Linked DNA regions of Homo sapiens: region 1 is linked to region 2. The links come from fine-mapping of genetic effects on gene expression. A gene starts in region 2. The other region holds a variant in brackets. All regions are shown on one strand. Distances are between the middles of the regions.

The links. PIP is the estimated chance that this variant, and not a neighbour inherited with it, causes the effect.
Region 1: its variant is fine-mapped to the expression of NDUFS4 in whole blood (TOPMed, PIP above 0.99).

The regions. Positions count from the first base shown.
Region 1 is chr5:53,732,184-53,742,488 of GRCh38, reverse strand. No RefSeq gene overlaps it. Among named protein-coding and RNA genes, the nearest start is that of LINC02105, 82 kb to the left of the region's middle. The variant C/T (reference allele first, on the strand shown) is at 5,569.
Region 2 is chr5:53,555,583-53,565,887 of GRCh38, reverse strand. NDUFS4 (NADH:ubiquinone oxidoreductase subunit S4) reads right to left here and starts at 5,249. Exons shown (of 5, transcript NM_002495.4): 1 at 5,128-5,249. The coding sequence starts at 5,225. RefSeq lists an enhancer at 4,848-5,347.

The sequences.
Region 1 (10,305 bases), 180 kb before region 2:
CCTTCTTTCTCTATCTTGTGGAATAGTGTCAAAAGGATTGGTATGAATTCTTCTTTGAATATCTTGTAGAATTTTTCTGTGAATCCATCTGGTCCTGGACTATTTTTTGTTGGTAATTTTTTAATTACCATTTTAATCTCTCTGCTTGTTATTGGTATGTTCAGGTTATCTAATTCTTCTTTATTTAAGCTAGGTGGGTTGTATTTTTCCAGGAATTTTTCCATCACTTCTAGGTTTTCTAGTTTATATGCATAAAGGTGTTCATAGTAGTCTTGAATGATTTTTTGTATTACAGTGGTGTCAGTTGTAATATCTCCTGTTTCATTTCTTAGTGAGGTTATTTGGATTTTCTCTGTTCTGTTCTTGGTTAATGTTGCTAATGGTCTATCAATTTTATTTATCTTTTTAAAGAACCAGCTTTTTGTTTCATTTATCTTTTATATTTTTTGTTTCAATTTTATTTAGTTCTGCTCTGATCTTGGTTATTTCCTTTCTTCTGCTGGGTTTGGGTTTGGTTTGTTCTTATTTCTCTAGTTCCTCAAGGTGTGACCTTAGATTTTCTGTTTGTGCTCTTTCAGGCATTTTGATGTAGGCATTTTGATGTAGGCATTTAGGGCTATGAACTTTCGTCTTAGCACCACTTTTGCTGTATCCCAGAGGTTTTGATAGGTTGTGTCATTATTGTCATTCAGTTTGAAAAATTTTTAAATTTCCATCTTGATTTCATTTTTGACCCAGTGCTCATTCAGGAGCAGGTTATTTAATTTCCATGTATTTGCATGGTTTTGAAGGTTCCTTTTGGAGTTGATTTCCAGTTTTATTCCACTGTGGTGTGAGAGAGTGCTTGATATAATTTCAATTTTCTTAAATTTACTGAGGCTCAATTTATGACCTATCATATGGTCTATCTTGGAGAAAGCTCCATGCACTGTTGAATAGAATGTGTATTGTGCAGTTGTTAGATGAGTTCTGTATATATCTGTTAAGTTCATTCGTTCCAAGGTATAATTTAAATCCATTGTTTCTTTGTTGACTTTCTGTCTTGATGACCTGTCCGGTGCTTTCAGTAGAGTATTGAAGTCCCCTACTATTATTGTGTTGCTGTCTATCTGATTTCTTAGGTCTGTTAGTAATTGTTTTGTAAATTAGGGAGCTCCAGTGTTAGGTTCATATATGTTTAGGATTGTGATATTTTCCTGTTGGACAAGGCCTTTTACCATTATGTACTGGCCCTCTTTGCCTCTTTTAACTGCTGTTGCCTTAAAATTTGTTTTGTCTGATATAAGAATAGCTATCCCTGCTTGCTTTGGATGTCTGTTTGCATGAAATGTCTTTTTCCACCCCTTTACTTTAAGCTTATGTGAGTCCTTATGTGTTAGATGAGTCTCCTGAAGGCAGCAGATAGTTGATTGGTGAGTTCTTATCCATTCTGCAGTTCTGTATCTTTTAAGTGGAGCATTTAGGCCATTTACATTCAATGTTAGTATTGAAAATGTGGGGTACCATTGCTTTCATCGTGCTTTTTGTTGCCTGTGTACTTTGGTTTTTTGTTTTTGATTTTTAACTTGTATTTTTGTTTTATAGGTCCTGTGTGATTTATGCTTTAAATAGGTTCCATTTTGACGTGTTTCCAGGATTTGTTTCAAGATTTAGAGCTCCTTTTAGCAGTTCTTGTGGTGGTGGTTTGGTAATGGTGAATTCTCTCAGCATTTGTCTGAAAACGACTGTATCTTTCCTTCATATATGATACTTAGTTTTGCTAGATACAAAATTCTTGGCTGATAATTGTTTTGTTTGAGGAGGCTAAAGATAGATGCCCAAGCCTTTCTAGCTTGTAGGGTTTCTGCTGAGAAATATGCTGTTAATCTGATAGGTTTTCCTTTAAAGTTACCTGATGCTTCCGTCTCAAATCTCTTACGATTCTTTCCTTTGTCTTGACTTTGGATAACCTGATGACAATGTGCCTAGGTGAAGATCTTTTTGCAATGAATTTCCCAGATGTTCTTTGTGCTTCTTGTATTTGGATGTCTAGGTCTCTCATAAGGCTGGGGAAGTTTTCCTCAATTATTCCCCCAAATATGTTTTCTGGACTTTTAGAATTACCTTCTTCCTCAGGTATACCAATTATTCTTAGGTTTGGTCATTTAACATAATCTCAGACTTCTTGGAGTCTTTGTTCATATTTTCTTATTCTTTTTTCTTTGCCTTTGTTGGATTGGGTTAATTCGAAGGCCTTGTCTTTGAGCTCTGAATTTTTACTTATTCAATTCTATTGCTGAGACTGTCCAGAGCATTCTGCATTTCTAAAAGTGGATCCAAAGTTTCCTGAATTTTTTATTATTTTTTCTTTAAGCTATCTGTTTCCATGAGTATTTCTCCCTTTGCTTCTTATATCATTTTTTGGGGGGTTTCCTTGCATTGGGCTTCACTTTTCTCTTGTCCCTCCCTGATTAGCTTAATAACTAACCTTCTGAATTCTTTTTCAGGTAAATCAGGGGTTTCTTCCTTGTTTGAATCCTTTGCTGGTGAACTAGTGTGATTTTTTGGGGGGCATGAAGAGCCTTGTTTGTCATTTAACCAGGGTTGGTTTTCTGGTTCCTTCTCATTGGGATAGGCTCTGTCAGAGGGAAGGTCTAGGGCTGAAGGCTGTTGTTCAGATTATTTTGTCCCACGGGGTGTTCACTTGATGTAGTATTCTCTCCTTTTTCCTATAGATGTGACTTCCTGTGAGCCAAACTGCAGTGTTTGTTGTCTCTCTTCTGGGTCTAGTCACCCAGTGAATCTACCTGGCTCCGGGCTGGTACTGAGTGTTGTCTGCACAGAGTCCTGTGATGTAAACTGTCTATGGGTTTCTGATCTGTGGATACCAGCGCCTGTTCCAGGGGAGATGGTGGAGTGTGCAGTGGACTCCATGAGGGTCCTTAGCTTTGGTGGTTTAATGCTCTATTTTTGTGCTGGTTGGCCTCCTGCCAGGAAGTTTTTGCTTTCCAGAAAGCATCAGCTATAGTAGTTACGGAAAGGGACCGGTGGTGGGCAGGGCCCTGGAACTCCCAAGATTATATTCCCTTTGTCTTCCACTACCAGGGTGGATCGGGAAGCACCATCAGGTGGGGACAGGGCTAGGCATGTCTGAGCTCAGGCTCACCTTGGGTGGGTCTTGCTGCAGCTGCTGTGGTGAGTGGGATGACATTCCCAGGTCACTGGAGTTGTGTACCTAGGAGGATTATGGCTGCCTGTGCTGAGTCATGCAGGTTGTCAGGAAAGTGGGAGAAAGCTGACCGTCATAGGCCTCACTTAGTTCCCATGCAAACAGGGGCCAGCCTCACTACCACCATACCCTCAACCCTGCCTGCCAATAGCCCCAAGTCTGTTTCCAGGCAGACTTTGAACATATTATCCCATTCTGCTGGTCTGCAAGGTTTCTGTTGAGAAATTTGCTTAGAGTCTTATGGGGATTTTGATTGCATGAAATGAATTGCTTTTCTCTTGTTGCTTTCAAAATTCCCTCTGTCATCGACCTTTTTTTTTTTTTTTTTTTTTTGAGATGGAGTCTTATTCTTCTGTCACCCAGGCTGGAGTGCAATAGTGTGATCTTGGTTCACTGTAACCTCCACCTCCCAGGTTCAAGTGATTCTACTGCCTCAGCCTCCTGAGTAGCTGGGATTACAGGTGTGTGCCACAACGCCTGGCTAATTTTTGGATTTTTAGTAGATATGGGGTTTTGCCATTTTGGTCAGGCTATTCTTGAACTCCTGACCTCAAGTGATCTGCATGCCTCAGCCTCCTGAAGTGCTGGGATTACAGGCATGAGCCACTGACTTTTGACAATTTGTTTATAAAATGTCATGCTGAAAACTTCTTTATGGTCAGTCTATTTGTAGTTCTTTTGGATTCATAAATCTAACTGTTCATTTCCCTCCCCAAATTTGGTAATTTTTTTGTCATTATTTTTAAAAATAAGCTTTCTATTCCTTTATCTTTCTTTGCTCCTTTTGAGAATCCCACAGTGGATATGTTGGTCAATTGATGGTGTTTCATAAGTTCCATAGGCTTTCTTCACTGTTTTTCATTCTTTTTCACTTTGTTCCTCGACTGAATAATTTCAAATGACATGAATTTAGTTAGCTGATTCTTTCTTCTGCTTGGTCAATTCTGCTGTTGAAACTGTTGTATTTTTTAGTTGAGTCATCGTATTCTTCAGCTTCAGAGTTTCTGTTTGGTTCTTTATTATTATTATTTTTTTGTTAAAGAAAATTTTTCGTGTATTGTTTTCTTGATTTCTGTAGTTGCTTATCTGTGCTCTCTTATAGCTCACTGAACTTTTTTTGTTATACTTTTTTTTTACAATTCAAACTTTATTCTTTAAATCAAAAAAGTAAAGGAAAATTACAACATTAAATCCTAGAATAAAATATTTGATGATTATACATACAAAATAGCATAATTAAAAAATTCTTAGTAAAAGGGAAAAATTCTGCAAATATACTAATCAACAAAAACATTAGAAGTATTTCAATAAAGTTAAAAGAGGGAGTGGACTGGCCTCTCACAATTCACTACTGTGTGAGATGTCTGAGTGGGGACCAAAACAAGGAAGAGAAAAAAAAACCAGGAAAGAAGCTGATTCAAAAACTCTGATTTGTAGTTATTCACAGAAGACATGGATGTTAACTAGAAAAGCAAGAAAATATATTTTACTCTCAGAACATGAACTGTTAGAATAACAACATCCAGAAAATTGGGTAAATGCATGGTCAAAATACTACTCTTCAGTAGTAATAATGGATAAACAACAAGAATAACAACAGCATAACATAGACAATCAACATCTATCTTGATTAGCAAATATACCAAAAAAATACATTTTCTTTTTTTTTCATTTTACCTAGTTCTTTTATCTCCTTTTAATATACTTTAAGTTCTGGGATACATATGCAGAACGTGCAGTTGCCACAGTGGTTTGCTGCACCCATCAACCTGTCATCTACATTAGATATTTCTCCTAATGCTATCCCTTCCCTAGTCCCTCACCCCCTGACAGGCCCTGCTGTGTGATGTTCCCCTTCCTGTGTCCATGTGTTCTCATTGTTCAACTCTCACTTATGGGTGAGAACACATGGTGTTTGGTTTTCTGTTCCTGTGTTAATTTGCTGAGAATAATGGTTTCCAGCTTCATCCATGTTCCTGCAAAGGACATGAACTCATCCTTTTTTACAGCTGCATAGTATTCCATGGTGTATATGTGCCACATTTTCTTTATCCAGTCTATCATTGATGGGCATTTCGGTTAGTTCCAAGTCTTTGCTATTGTGAATAGTGCTGCAATAAACATATGTGTGCATATGTCTTTATAGTAGAATGATTTATAATCCTTTGGGTATATGCCCAGTAAAGGGATTGCTGGATCAAATGGTATTTCTGGTTCCAGATCCTTGAGGAAGCACCACATTGTCTTCCATAATGGTTGAACTAATTGACACTCCCACCAACAGTGTAAAAGTATTCCTATTTCTCCACATCCTCTCCAGCATCTGTTGTTTCCTGATTTTTAAATGATCACCATTCTAA[C/T]GGGCATGAGATGGTATCTCATTGTGGTTTTGATTTGCATTTCTCTAAGGACCAGTGATGATGAGCATTTTTTCATATGTTGGCCGCATAAATGTCTTCTTTTGAAAAGAGTCTGTCTGTTCATATACTTCGTCCGCTTTCCAATGACAAAAACCACATGATTATTTCAATAGATGCAGAAAAGGCCTTCAATAAAATTCAAAACTCACTTCATGCTAAGAACTCTAAATAAACTAGGTATTGATGGAACGTATCTCAAAATAGTAAGCGTTATTTATGACAAACCCACAGCCAATATCACACTGAATGGGCAAAAGCTGGAAGCATTCCCTTTCAAAACTGGCACAAGACAAGGATGCCCTCTCTCACCACTCCTATTCAACATAGTTTTGGAAGTTCTGGCCACAGCAATCAGGCAAGAGAAAGAAACAAAGGGTATTCAAATAGGAAAAGAGAAGTCAAATTGTCTCTGTTTGCAGATGACATGAGTGTGTATTTAGAAAACCCCATCGTCTCAGCCCAAAATCTCCTTAAACTGATAAGCAACCTCAGCAAAGTCTCAGGATACAAAATCAGCATGCAAAAATCACAAGCATTCCTATACACCAATCATATACAGAGACCCAAATCATGAGTGAACTCCCATTCACAATTGGTACAAAGAGAATAAAATACCTGGGAATATAATTTACAAGGGATGTGAAGGACCTCTTCAAGGAGAACTACAAACCACTGCTCAAGGAAATAAGACAATACACAAACAAATGGAAAAACATTCCATGATCATGGATAGGAAGAATCAATATCATGAAAACGGCCATACTGCCCAAACTAATTTACAGATTCAATGTTACCAATGACTTTCTTCACAGAATTAGAAAAAACTACTTTAAATTTCATATGGAACCAAAAAAGAGCCCACATAAGCCAAGACAGTCCTAAGCAAATAGAACAAAGCTGAAGGCATCAGGCTACCTGACTTCAAACTAAACTATAAGGCTGCAGTAACCAAAACAGCATGGTACTGGTACCAAAACAGATATACAGACCAATGGAACAGAACAGAGGCCTCAGAAATAACACCACACATCTACAACCATCTTATCTTTGACAAACCTGACAAAAACAAGCAATGGGGAAGGATTCCCTATCTAATAAATGGTATTAAGAAAACTGGCTAGCCATATGCAGAAAACTGAAACTGGACCCCTTTCTTACACCTTATATAAAAATTAACTCAAGATGGATTCAAGACTTAAACATAAGACTTAAAATCATGAAAACCCTAGAAGAAAGCCTACCCAATACCATTGAAGACCTAGTTATGGGCAAGGACTTCATGACTAAAACACCAAAAACAATTGCAACAAAAGCCAAAATTGACAAATGGGATCAAATTAAACTAAAGAGCTTCTGCACAGCAAAAGAAACTATCAGCAGAGTAAACAGGCAACCTACAGGATGGGAGAAAGTTTTTGCAATCTATCCATCTGACAAAGGGCTAATATCCAGAATCTACAAGGAACATAAATAAATGTACAAGAAAAAAAGCTCACTGAACTTCTTTAACATGATTATTTTGAATTCTTTTTCAGGTAATGCATAGATTTTCATTTATTTGTGGTCAGCCACTGGAGATTTATTTTGTCTCTGGTGGTATCATGTTTCCTTGATTTTGTATGTATGCTTCTGGAAATTTGCACTGCTGTCTTGGCATTTGAAGTAGTCACTTCCTCTAGTCTTTACTGACTGGCTTCAGGAGAGAAATATCTTCTCCAGTCAGCCCAGCTAGAATCTAGGGGTTTCTCATACCTTTTACCTGGATGTGCTTACTCCACTACTCCTTTGTTTTCTCTTGAAGGGGGCATCTTAGGATTGTGTGCTTTCTCTCAATATTGCAAATCTAATAGGGTGCTGAAAGTCTCCTGCTTATTTATCATAGGACAGTGCCCTTGAATGTTTAAGGTTTTGTGCTTTTTTCCAACTAAGCAGAGTTGAGTTATCAGCTTATATCCATGTGAATTCTGTGGAGAATTGCATGCAGTGGTTATGGGGAGAAAGAAAGTGGTGCACAATGCTGGGGACACTTGTTGGCTAGTTAGTAGGAGGTGGTCTCCCAATAAGGTGTCTAAGAGCTTGTGGTTAGGCTCTTAGGTCCATGTGTCTGTTAGTAGAATCTGTGCTGATTCTTGAGATCTGCATGCTGGTTGCTATGATTCCCTGTCCATTTTCACTGCTCCTAGTTGTCTTCAGATGATTTAGCTATGTTGATCTCAGTGTTCTGGGTAGACAATACAGAAGTGGGTCTCTTGAACAGTATGTCATAAGACTGGGGAACTTGGGCACTTATTTCACTCTCTTTCCCAAGAAAGAAATTGTAGATTAAAGGGGTCTGTATTGGCAGAGTTGTGCTACCTGAAGGAGGAGTGATGCACATAAAGTGAAACTGTTCTTTTTACCTTCTATGCATCTATACTTGGATTTTTTGGCTCCACTAGGGTGGTGGAACCTCTGAGCTGGACTATGTGCATCACATAAACATATTATTCTCATGGGTAGGTTGTTCAAATCAGTGTTTCTGTGGGGGCTTGAATACAGGAACCTCCTATTCTACCACCTTCTAGATGTCACTTCTTTGTTTTAAATAGTGTCCCTGCTTTTTTCATGTTCTGTTGCTAATAAAGTTAACCCTGTCGGGCAGGGTCAAGGAGCTGCCACTCTTACATCATGCTATGTCCATCCTGGACAGACCTGTCACAACACAAGGCAGAGCCATGAGGGTAGGAATGAGAGCTACTGCTCTTCCCAACCTGCTGCAGCCTCTCCTGGAGTGACACCTGTGTGCTATGTCTGGAACTGCTGAGGGAGGATGGTAGCTACCAGTCCTCATGGCCTGCCCATCTGCACAGTATAGAATTTCTGCAACATGGAGATGGAGAAGATAGGAGCAACCCCTGGCATGAATGACACAGACTCACACTTTTCTTACTGAGATGCAGCAGATTTTCTGAGCAGATGTTTTTCAATTTGTTACATGCCCTGTGGTCAGTTTCTAGAGACTTTATTTTTTATTATTAATTAACTAATTTATGTATTCATCCAATTTTATCACTGTTTCTTTGAGAAGAGGATCTGTTAACTTTCTCATATAGGCATTTCAGAATTCCTGCTTCCTAATTAAATCTTGCCTATAATGATCACAAATTTCTGATTTTCCAATTCTAGCATTCTTTCTGTATTTACCACTCAGGATTTGGCATTTTACAAGCAAGAGCCCTCATCTCTTCCCCATTGTTTATCTCTATTTATTATCAGTATAGATTCATGAGTTCTTATTTTTCACTCCAATGGTTTATATTTTGTTACTGTACAGAAATTTTTGTTTAATTTTTTCAGATTTGACAAGTGGCAGCCCCTTTAATTTGGATCCTGTGTTCTTGTTCATTATCCTTTTGTAATGTGTTCTTGCTTTCTAGTATATCAAGATGTTCTAGACTGATCTCATATTTACCCTGCCCTAGCCCTAAGCTCAGTCATTTTTCTGAGAAGCTTTAATTCATTTCAGGGAGAGAGGATATTACAGATCAAGATCTTGATGCTAAATGTGCTATAGTCATGCTGAAGTGTCTTTGCTCATGCTCTTAAGTGGACAAAATTAGGAAACTTATGTATATGTAAATATACAAGTATACAGACACGCATAGACATATTTTAGAAATGGGTTTACATTTATTCCTCCGATTCCAGTTCGCCCCACAAAAGTTATTTCTTTCCTTTCCATGTTCCATATTAGTTTGTCCCTTCTTCTTCAGTAAAAACTCTGAATCTTAACAATATCAATACATTTATTCATTTGCTCAATCTTATAATACATCCAAATTTGTTTCAGAATTTTGTTGCCCGTACCACTATATTTTAAAATGCTACGAAAAAGAGTTAAGGATTTGTTTGAAATTCTCTCCCACTATCCCACCCAATCCAAGACTAGGTAAAAAGTAAAATAGTGGGTTCAAAGTAACTAGGATAAATTCATTCTTTTTTTCCTCTTCATTGTGGTTATGGTATTCATTTAAAATACATGCGGGACCATTTGGTCCAGTTTGCTTTACATTTTAGGACTTCTTTTTTCTCTTCTCACCCCTATTGATTTAATTTTTTAAAAAACATGTAGAACATTAGCATGCTTCCAAGAATCAAAATAATACTAAAAGATATATTTGGAGAGGTATCACTCACTCCCATATCCCTTCTGCATGTTTTTCTCCCATCCCTTTAGTAGGTAAAGGGTTTCATTGTTTTCTGGTTTTGTCTTTTTGTTACACAAAAGGCAACATTAATATGTAAGTATGTATATATGTGTGTGTGTGTATATATATACACACACACACATATCTGGGTCTCTGTGTGTATGTATATATGTGTGTATATATACTGTATATGTGAATATCTTATATACAGTGTGTGTGTGTACATATATATAACGTCTTGTACTTGTTCTTTCAGTAAGCAATGTCTTCTAGAAATCATACCATATCAGTTAATATGAAATTTTTTCTCATTCTTTTTTAAAAGCATCTATATAATACCCAGTTGTGTGGATGTTCCATAGTTTATTCATACAACTTCTTATGCTTAGATATTTAAGTAGTTCCCAACATTTTTCAATTACATTAATGCTGTAATCAGTTTGTGTATATGTATGTATTTTTATGTTTTCTGGAGGTGTATTTTAATATG
Region 2 (10,305 bases):
TACTGACTTTTTAAAACTTCGCATAGTTACTCTTACTCCAAAAAAGTTCTCATGTTCCAAGGGTACCCTTTCCCAAACATTCATTTCCTCTTGCATTTTTAAATTTGAATACAAAAGAAGTGTCTGAACACTTGTCAAAGTGTATGAATACAAAATCTATTCATAAGACAACTTCAATCCAAAAGTTAACAGAGTTCTAGGTGAATATCCTACACTCAGACCACTGCAAATAATTAGAATATGTGTTGTAGATAGTTTATCTTCATATTTATAAAGGTTAGTGCCTACCTGGCTATCACTGATGAGGGTATTAAAAGAAACACTGCGTAATGCTCCCTGCTTTTCCTCACAATCGCTCATCTCTAAATATGTATTTATTCATCTGTAAGATAAGCATTTACCTGCTACATGCAAGCCATTACACTAGATGCCATGAAGTACACACAAATAAACAAAAATGTGGTTGTGTCCTCAAAAAGCTTGCGACCTCACTGCTGATATATCGGTCCATGTGCTAAAACCTGCTCACTTGCAAATATGAGTGTATATAAAATAGAGTCAGCATAGGTTGTTATGCTGAGGTAACCAATCCAAACACCTTTGTGGCTTACAGCAAAGGTTTATTTTTCACTCAATTTATATTTTATAAAATCTTGCAATAAGAATCAGTTTCTGCTTTGCACTATGTAGTCTACAATCCAAGATGTGGGCTAAAACAGCAGACCCCACCTGGAGTACACCTACCTCACATCAGAGGGAAAAGGAATATGACAAAACACAGGAGAGCTCTCAAAGCTCCTGTTTGACATGGTATATCATTTCCACTAACATTTCACTGGATAAAGCAAGTCATTTGGCCAGTGGTTTTTGGATATGTAATCCTGTTGCAGACAGTGGTAGTGAATACTTTAAACAATAACACAATCTATCACAATACTTACAACCAAGATTAAAGAAATGAAAAACATTCAGGCCATTCAAACCAATAATAAAATTACCATTTATCTAGGGAAGGCTTACTATATGCCGACATTACATATTAAAATATTTAATTTTCCGGCTGGATACGGTGGCTCATGCCTGTAATCCTAACACTTTGGGAGGCCAAGGCACACGGATCACTTGGGGTCAGGTGTTCAAGACCAGTGTGAAACCCCGTCTGTACTGAAAATACAAAAATTAGCTGGGCGTGGTGGCAAGCACACCTACAGTCCCAGCTGCCTGTGAAGACTAAGGCAGGAGGATCACCTGAGCCCAGAGGGTGGAGGTTGCATGAGCCAAGATTGCGCCACTGCACTCCAGCCTGAGCAACAGAATGAGACTCTGTCTCAAAATATAATAATTATTTTCCTAACAAAAATTCAACGAAGATGTCTGCTACTGATGAAAACTAAGTATGGGCATTTGGAAAGAGGAAAAGAAACAAAACAAATAAACCTATCAGAAAACATATTAGAAATCTTTCAAGCTCTCAAACTTTGGCTTGGATGTGTTACAAAGATAGCAAAAATAGCTGCCCCTAGGAGAGGAATTTATTTAGTTTATCTGAAGTAGAAGTGAACCTATTGGTCTTAAGTGTCCTAAATTTGAGCTTAGCCTATTTCCCAGCAAGGTGTTAACAAACAGAATTCTTGTCAACCTTAAGGACTGCTTACTATTTGGAGGGTTCAAATTCAATTCCCCATCGAATTGAAGACTCAATTTCATGCTAGCTTATATAATGCTGAAGAACCAAACACAGCAACAGAATAAAGCCACAGATCAGGGCATAAAAGAGACCTCACAAACAGGTCCCAAACACTCAGTCCCCACCAGTCATTAATTAAAACCCTCTGGGTGATTTAACACCCTAAGGACTTGTTTGAGGAAAACACAAGACCTAGTAAATACTAAGGTGAGATAAGTATACATGAACACACTTAAATAAGTGAATAAAAACATCACTGCATCAAATATCTTAAGTATAGCTATTTTGAAATAGAGTGCCATTTCATCTGGCTGATAAATGCATTTAGAATAGTTAAATTTACCCTGGAAAATCTCTTAGGAAAGTCAGGGAAAGTAAGGATAAATGTAGACAACTTAGGGATGGGCGCGGTGGCTCCCGCCTGTCATCCCAGCACTTTGGGAGGCCGGGGCGGGTGGATCACCTGTGGGTAGGAGTTTGAGACCAGCCTGGCTAACACGGTGAAACTCCATCTCTACTAAAAATAAAAAAATTAGCTGGGCGAGGTGGTGGGCACCTGTAATCCCAGCTACTCTGGAGGCTGGGGCGGGAGAATCGCTTGAACCCGGGAGGCAGAGGTTGCAGTGAACTGAGATTGTGCCACTGCACTCTAGAATGGGTGACAAGAGCGAAACTACATCTCCAAAAAAAAAAAAAATGTAGACAATTTAACCCCTTTTTTTGCCTCCTCACATTCGGTACAGGGAAATGAGAAGCACATGGAAACTGAGACCAACACTACAGCACAAGCTCAGTAAGTAACTAGATCAGCTCAATCACCCACATTACTAGATTTTTTCTCTCTTGTGTGTATGTGTTGTTGCATTCTTTGTTTTGCTTTTCACTGATGATATACTATAATTGAATTAATATGTTAATGTAGCAGCTAACAGCATCCTTCCTTTTCTTTTTTTTTTTTTTTTTTGTTTTTTTGAGACACAGTCTGGCTCTGTTGCCCAGGCTGGAGTGCAGTGGCGCGATCTTGACTCACTGCAAGCTCTGCCTCCCGGGTTCACGCCATCCTCCTGCCTCAGCCTCCTGAGTAGCTGGGACTACAGGCGCACGCTGCCACGCCTGGCTAATTTTTTGTATTTTTAGTAGAGACGGGGTTTCACCGTGTTGGCCAGGATGGTCTCGATCTCCTGACCTTGTGATCTGCCCGCCTCGGCCTCCCAAAGTGCTGGGATTACAGGTGTGAGCCACCGCGCCCGGCCCTTCCTTTCCTTCAGTTCCCTACTCCACTCCTTACCTTACTGATTCCACTTCCCATATTCTATTCAAATGATCTGAAATGTTACATGATTTGCAAATGTTTTTCTAAGCATTACAATAAAATGAATTTTAGATGTAGATTTTCCCATTAATTGGTTCTTTCTACTCACCTTTTTCAGATCCTCATTACTATCAAATCATAATGGAAAAAGAATGCTTAAGGATGAAGAACAAACAATATGTAAGGGAGAGGGTCTATAAATTTCCCTCAAATTAGGATGAACATGACAAGCTCTTAGGGTAAAAATGTGGCACAGAAAACAAATAAATGTGTTAATTTGTATTTAAAAAACGTCTTCCCTGGCATTAAGATTTTTTTTCAAGATTAAATGATTTATTTTCAAATCTCTTACATTTGCAGGCAAAAACTCTTAAGTTTGGATATGTAGTAACAATTATCATCAGAGTTTCAAAAATCTAATCTCAACTTCAATTACTATAATTGCTGACAAAATGGCTTTGACTTAAAATTACAGCCATGTTTTGATTAGCCATAAACCAGTGGTCCCTTCAAACTTGTTTTCAGTTCTGGGGCTACCATGAGTACATTATTATCTGGGAATGACAATTAATCCCTATAATCTGTACGGGAGGAAGGGCTAATCTTGGTCACCGCTATATTAACTCTAAGTTAACCAGTGAAGTATTTTACCTTAGAAAAATACTTAACCCAGCCTGACCAACATGGTGAAACCCCGCCTCTACTAAAAATACAAAAATTAGCCAGGTGTGGTGGTGCGCGCCTGTAATCCCAGCTAGTCAGGAGGCTGCGGCAGGAGAACTGCTTGAACCCGGGAGGCGGAGGTTGCAGTGAACCAAGATCACGCCATTGCACTACAGCCTGGGCGTCAGAGTGAGAATGTATCTCAAAAAAAAAAAGAGAAAGAAAAAGGAAAAATACTTTCCATATATGGAACACTTAATTACAAACATCATTTGCCTTTCCCCAATCTTAGCACCCTTACTTTTGAGTGACTCTATTCTATGTATTTAGTAATCGTTTAACTAATGCTTTCAAGCCTTTTCATAAGCCACGGACCCTACGGGACACTCTCTTCTTTCCCACCCAACACCCACTATATTTAAACCTTAATAAAACTCATCCTTAAAAATTCTTCCGAATTAACTCATCCTAATTCTCTGCATTCCATTTATATTTAACACTAAATCAATTAGCATTCTACTAGACCTTCCTTTCAACTTTTAACCACTTGCATCCACCTCCTACCCCCTTCAAATCTCTCCATCCAGTCTTTCCAATCTTTGTTCTAATATGTGTGTGTATGTACGTATAGCATTAGTACTATAATTTAAAAAACTCCAGGAAATTCTGAAAAATAGAAAATGGAAGGTTAATACAGCCAAAAAAAAAAAAATCATCACAAAAATGCTTCAAGGAAAAACAGTAACAACTCAATCAACTGACAACTGAATCTGACAATACTTTGGAAAAGTACTACTTTAGGTTCTCAAGGACGCAAAGAGCCCTCAACAACTCAATTCAATCCCTGAATTATTGTGAGGCTTTAACAAAATCCCTAGAAAACCTCCAGGCATTACCACCAGCCTTTTAAAAATTACCTTCCAATATTACTAGCAGTGATATTTTTACTAACACTGAATTCCAAACAAGTTTTCCTCCCAAGCAGACTGATGAATAAACAATCTTCCTATGCAGAAACCAAATTAAAACCACTTAAAACCATGGAAGGGATACAGTGATTTAACCCTTCTGTAAGGACTGGAGTGGTGGGCAAACAGGTGACAAATGGAAGGGATGCAGAAAGTGGAAACAGAAATCAGTGAGACTCCTCCCCTTCTCTGAGGGCTAAGGTTCAGCTTGCAGCTCCGGAGGCAAAACCTCCACGGACCCTCTCCCTCAGCGACAAGCCGAATACGAAAGCTTCCAGAAAACCACAGGTCCTCCTCCCCGGCCTCGCACTCACGCCCTCACTCGCCTGGCCAACGCCCATTGATAGCAGACAGTCCCTAGTCCGCCCGACTTCTCCCGAGAAAAGGGTCAACAGAGGACGCCTTCCCCGAGGCCTCCTCCGGAACTCAGCCAGCAGAGACTCCGCAAAAATGGAGGGACCCAAGAAGCTTGAAGAAAAGTGTGAAAATTCTATTACCTGGTCGGAACCCTGGAAACGGAAAGGGCAGCTACAGCCACTGCCCTTCTCCGCCACAACGTCTGCCTCAGTACCACTGACATTGACACCGCCGCCATCTTGCTGCAGGCAAACGCCAGGATGAAAGGACGGATCACCGCAAGGGACTAACTTCCTTCGTTCTCAAGCCAGTGCAATCGCAATGTTGCGAAATTCTTTGGGATTTTATTTTCTTTTTAATACTGGGGCTTAAAAAAAGAGGGGAAACGCTTAGTTTAAATAAGTAAGAAGAAAAATGTGCGGGAAGAAATGCAGAAGTGCATTAACTGTAAATATTACCACCATAAAGTGTAATCTTTACTGCTTGTTAGGACTGGTGTTTTACAATGATAACGAAAAGACCAAAATATACTTGCATATTTAAACACCTGCAACTCGTAATTTATTGAAGAAATTAGGATATTTGGGGCTGAACCCACTGGAAAAGCTGGAGAGCTCTTTGGGTCCTTGAGAACCTGCAGTAGTACTTTTCCAAAGTATTGCCAGATTCACTTTGCAAGCCCTCAGGACAGGGCTGTATTCAGTTTGATATTCTGTAGTAGTAATGTTCGTATTTTCCAAACGAAAAATCTGGATACGTGATCTGGCAAAGGATTATTTTTTGACATGTAGATTTATATGAAGAATCAATAGAACATAATATTTGATGTCACTGTTTCCCCAGTAAATCCTGAATGTGTGTGTGTTCATAATCCATAGACATGAAGAATGATATTAATGCTCCATGCATATAAAACAAAAATTATCTTCCAATACAAGTGTTGGAAACATGTTTGTATTGTGGACTTCCGACCTTAAAGAATAATGACTAACTGAATTATATAAAATAAAAAGCAGGTTAGTTTTGGGTTTTGTTTTTTAAGAAATTTGTTTAAAGAGTTAGTACTTTCCTGCTTTTAAAATTAAGCACATGAAAACATAACCTTCATTAAATAAATAGGAACAATAGGAGGATGGGGAATGACATAGTTTGGCATTATGGACCGTTAAAGGAAAACCCAGTACATAAGGGAAAGGGAGAAAGAAAGAGAAAAAGTCATACTCAGGGAAAGAAATGCACAAGATGAAGGAAGGCAAGGGAGAGATGCCTCAGAGAAAATTTTCTTTCAAACTTTTCATTTTGAAATAGTTATAGATTCACATGAAGTTGCAAAGATAGTACAGATGTCTTGTGTACCTGTTTCCCCCAGTGATTACATCTCGTATAACTCTAGTACAGTATCAAAGCCAGGAAACTGGCATTGATATAAAGTATTTGTGTAGTCCTATGTCATTCTACTACATATTTTGTGTAACCACCACCATGATCAAGATACAGAACTATTCCACCCTCACAAAGATCTCCCTAGTGCTAACCTTTTTGGTAACACCTGCCCTCCTAACCCTAGTGATCTCTGTTTCTGTTTTTATAATTTTGACATTTTGAGATGTTATATGAATGGACTCATGCAGTACATGACCTTCTAAGATTGGCTTCTTTCACTTGGCATAATGCACTTGAGACCCATCCAAGTTGTTGTGTTTATCAATAGTTCATTCCTTTTTTATTGCTGAGTAATATTCCATGACATGGATGTACCACAATTTGTTTAACCATTCACCTATTGCAGAACATTTTGATTGTTTCCCATTTGGGGCCATTACAAATAAAACTGCTGCAAACAATTGAATACAGGTTTTTATGTGGACAAAAATCTTCATTTCTCTGAGATAAATGCCCAGGAGTGCAATTGCCAGGTCATGTGATACATGTATGTGTCATTTTTTAAAGAAATTAAAAACTGTTTTCCAGAGTAACTGTAACATTTTACATTTCCTCCAGCAATGTATGAGAGATCCAGTTTCTCCATATCCTCACCAGCATTTTCTATTATTGCTATTTTTGTTTTAGCTGAGCTAAAGTAAATAATAAATGTGCAGTAATACCTCATCACAGTTTTACATTTATTCCCCTGGTGGCTAATAATGTTGAATATCTTTTCATGTTTTTATCTGCCATCTGTATATTCCATTCAGTTAAATGTCCTTATGTCTTTTGCCCATTTTCTAATTAGCATTATTTGGTTTTTTACCTGTACATTTTGAGAGTTCTTCATATATTAGATGTGTCTTTTGTCAGATGCATGATTCACAAATATTTTCTTCAATCTGTAGTTTGTATTTTCATTCTCTTGACAAGATCTGCCACAGAACAAATATTTTTAATTTTGATGAAGTCCAGTTTATTCATTTTTTAAATTTATGGATTGTGCTTTTGCTGTCATGTCTGAGAACTATTCTCTAATCCTGTATCCTAAAGATTTTATCTTGTTTTCTTTCAAAGGTTGTTTTAGTTTTGCCTTTTACATTTAAGTCTATGTAATTTTTGTGAGTTAAGTTTTCCATTAATAGGTGTGAGGTTTAGGTTCAGGTTTTTGCTTGTGGCTATCCAATTGCTCTAGCACTACTTATTGAAAAGTTTATCCTTCTTCCATGGAGTCCCTTTTGCACCTTTGTCAAAATATCAGTTGGCCATACTTGTGTGTGGCTATTTCTGGGTTCTCTATTTCAGAGAGAAATTTTAAGCCCAAGGGTGGCTTTGGTGTCTGGGTGAATTTTAATAAAGATTTTCTATGTGAAGGAATAATGGGATGTGTCCCAGTGTTCATAAGAGCAACTTCCTATAGCCCTGTTACTGGCCCTACCAACCAAAGCTCAACCTCTCCACCTAACACCTATTCTAGTCCCCAACTTCCATGGATCTGAATTCCCCAGGAAAGCCCCCGGTCTCTAGTCTCTTTGTCTTTTGTACAGCCCATAATCCAACATCAGCATTGCCAGAACCCTAGTGGAATCTTTGATTCCCTTCACTTTCTGCTGGATTCCCTCAGCTGCCCATTCCTGAGGTCCTTTCTGACCTTATATACAGGATATAGGTGTTAGAATGGAACAGAAATAACTTGGTATGTTCATTTATTTATACTATTTCACCTATACCACAGGCTGTACCATTAAGCTTAATAGAATGTCTAGGTCCAAGTGCCATTTTGTTATTTCAATGTGCTGCCCCAGAAGTTGTTAACTACTAGAGTCCACTTCTTTGCCTCTTCTCTAGTCATCCTCCTTGCCCTTCAGATCACAGCTGTGAGTCACATCCTTCAGAGTCACTCCCCATGGTAGAAACTACGTCTTACAGGCATTTTTCACCTCCGCCATCCTTGCTGACAGAGCCTGACTCCTATGATAGAGACTAAAGTTGCTGTATATTGGCTTTCCCATTAGCTCCTGCAGCTAGCACATGAACATGTCCAAAGCCAACAGGATCTGAAATCCCTTTTGAGAAAAAAGACTTCTGAAAAAAAAAAAAAAAAAAGACATACAAGAAGAAATACCTCTTTTCCTGCGTCTGAATGCAGTTATATGAGGACATAATGCCTAGAACTGTGGCATCTTCTGAACTAGAAGGGACAAGCATAAGAGCTTAGCTAACAAGAAGGGGTGGAGGAATAGAGAGAGGAAAAGAGCCTAGGGCTTAGTTGACATCATTGAGCCAATCCTGAACCGACTTTTAAACCAAACCTGATGAAAATACCTCCAAACTTCCTGTTACATGAGGTAATAAATGACTTAATTGTTTAAACCTCCATTAGTTAGATATTCTGCATCCAAAAACATCTTTTCCTATGCTCTTACATGAAAAATACTTCTCTGACTTCCCTTTATGTCAGCTCTTTCTGTAGACTCTCCTAGCATCACATCTTCCTTCTTCGTAGCACCTCTCATGTCTCAGTTTTAATACACTATCATTGTCACTTTCTCTACAATGTAAAGTAAGTTATCTGAAGACAAGGATCATATCTGATTTTGATTATCATTTTCCCAGTATCTAGCCTAGTCCCTCACATATAGCAGCCTCCAAAGGATGTATGGAATAAGTGAATGAAAGTAACTGGAACTTTTAAAATGTCAAAAAAATGAAAAAAAACAGTGCTATCTCTATTTGCTATTTTGCTTAGGAAAAGCTCATACAAATTAATGTGATTGCTGTCTTGGGTCTATAGATCTTATTGGTTTCTAAAATTTCATCTTTGATCAGTTGCCATTTCCTGAAGAACTTGGTGAGATATTGGGGACAGGAGCTCCACGTTGCTGGCAAGAGATCGGAAAAGATAAATTTACCTTTTACTGGGCTTGCATTAAAAAAATGTAATAACCTCTTTCATTTCCTTTTTTCTTACATTTCAAATAAGGATATAGACCTGAGAGTGGAACAGAAATAATTTGCTGTGTGCATTTTTTTATAACTTCAACCAAACTATGCATTCTACCAGTAAGCGTAGTAAAATGCCTATGTCCAAATACCATTTTATTATTTCAAATAGGAGTATTAAAATGTAAATTGACTTTACTTTTTGCTTGCACTTCATCCATGATTGCCAAATGAAACATTTATCTTAGACTTTCTGATGGCATGTGAAAGTTACAGTGGATCCAAAGTTGTCTGTTTTTAATTTTTCCCCTTGCACATGGGTCTTTAGTAAAGCATCCAGAAAAAAATAAATTAAAACCAGACATTTCTATCAGAAGTTTCACATACAATCACTATAGACATGACAAAATTCCACCATCACTTTATTGGCTGCAAACTAATTTTTTTATCACATCTCATTTTTCACTGCTAATTTATTTGAAAAACTTAATACCTTATCATCTTATAAAATTATCATGACATCTAGCAGTGCAGCTGAGGCTTTGGCAACAAATGAAAGAATTTCTACCTATAGTGAAGATCTGTCACTTGAAATTATTTTTGGAAAACAAGAGGTACAAATAATCACATTCTTAAGAACTCAAGGAGTTTTCCCACATAAATTTCAGAACATACTTCATCACCCGCTGGAGTTTCAGCCCTAAATTTTCAACTGCACATAGGTCATTCTCAAACTTAACATATAGAAAACCAAACTAATTCTATTTCACCCCTTTCTCTTGCCCCAAGAAAATCTGTTCTTCCCCTCAGTATCTCTGCCTTGGCAAGATATGTACTATCATCTTTCTTCTAATACATGTCATCAACTGTAAAAGGCACCGTTATTTTCTGTACTATTAAGAAAGAAAACAATGCAGCAATTGAACCATGACATAGTACTAATTATATGT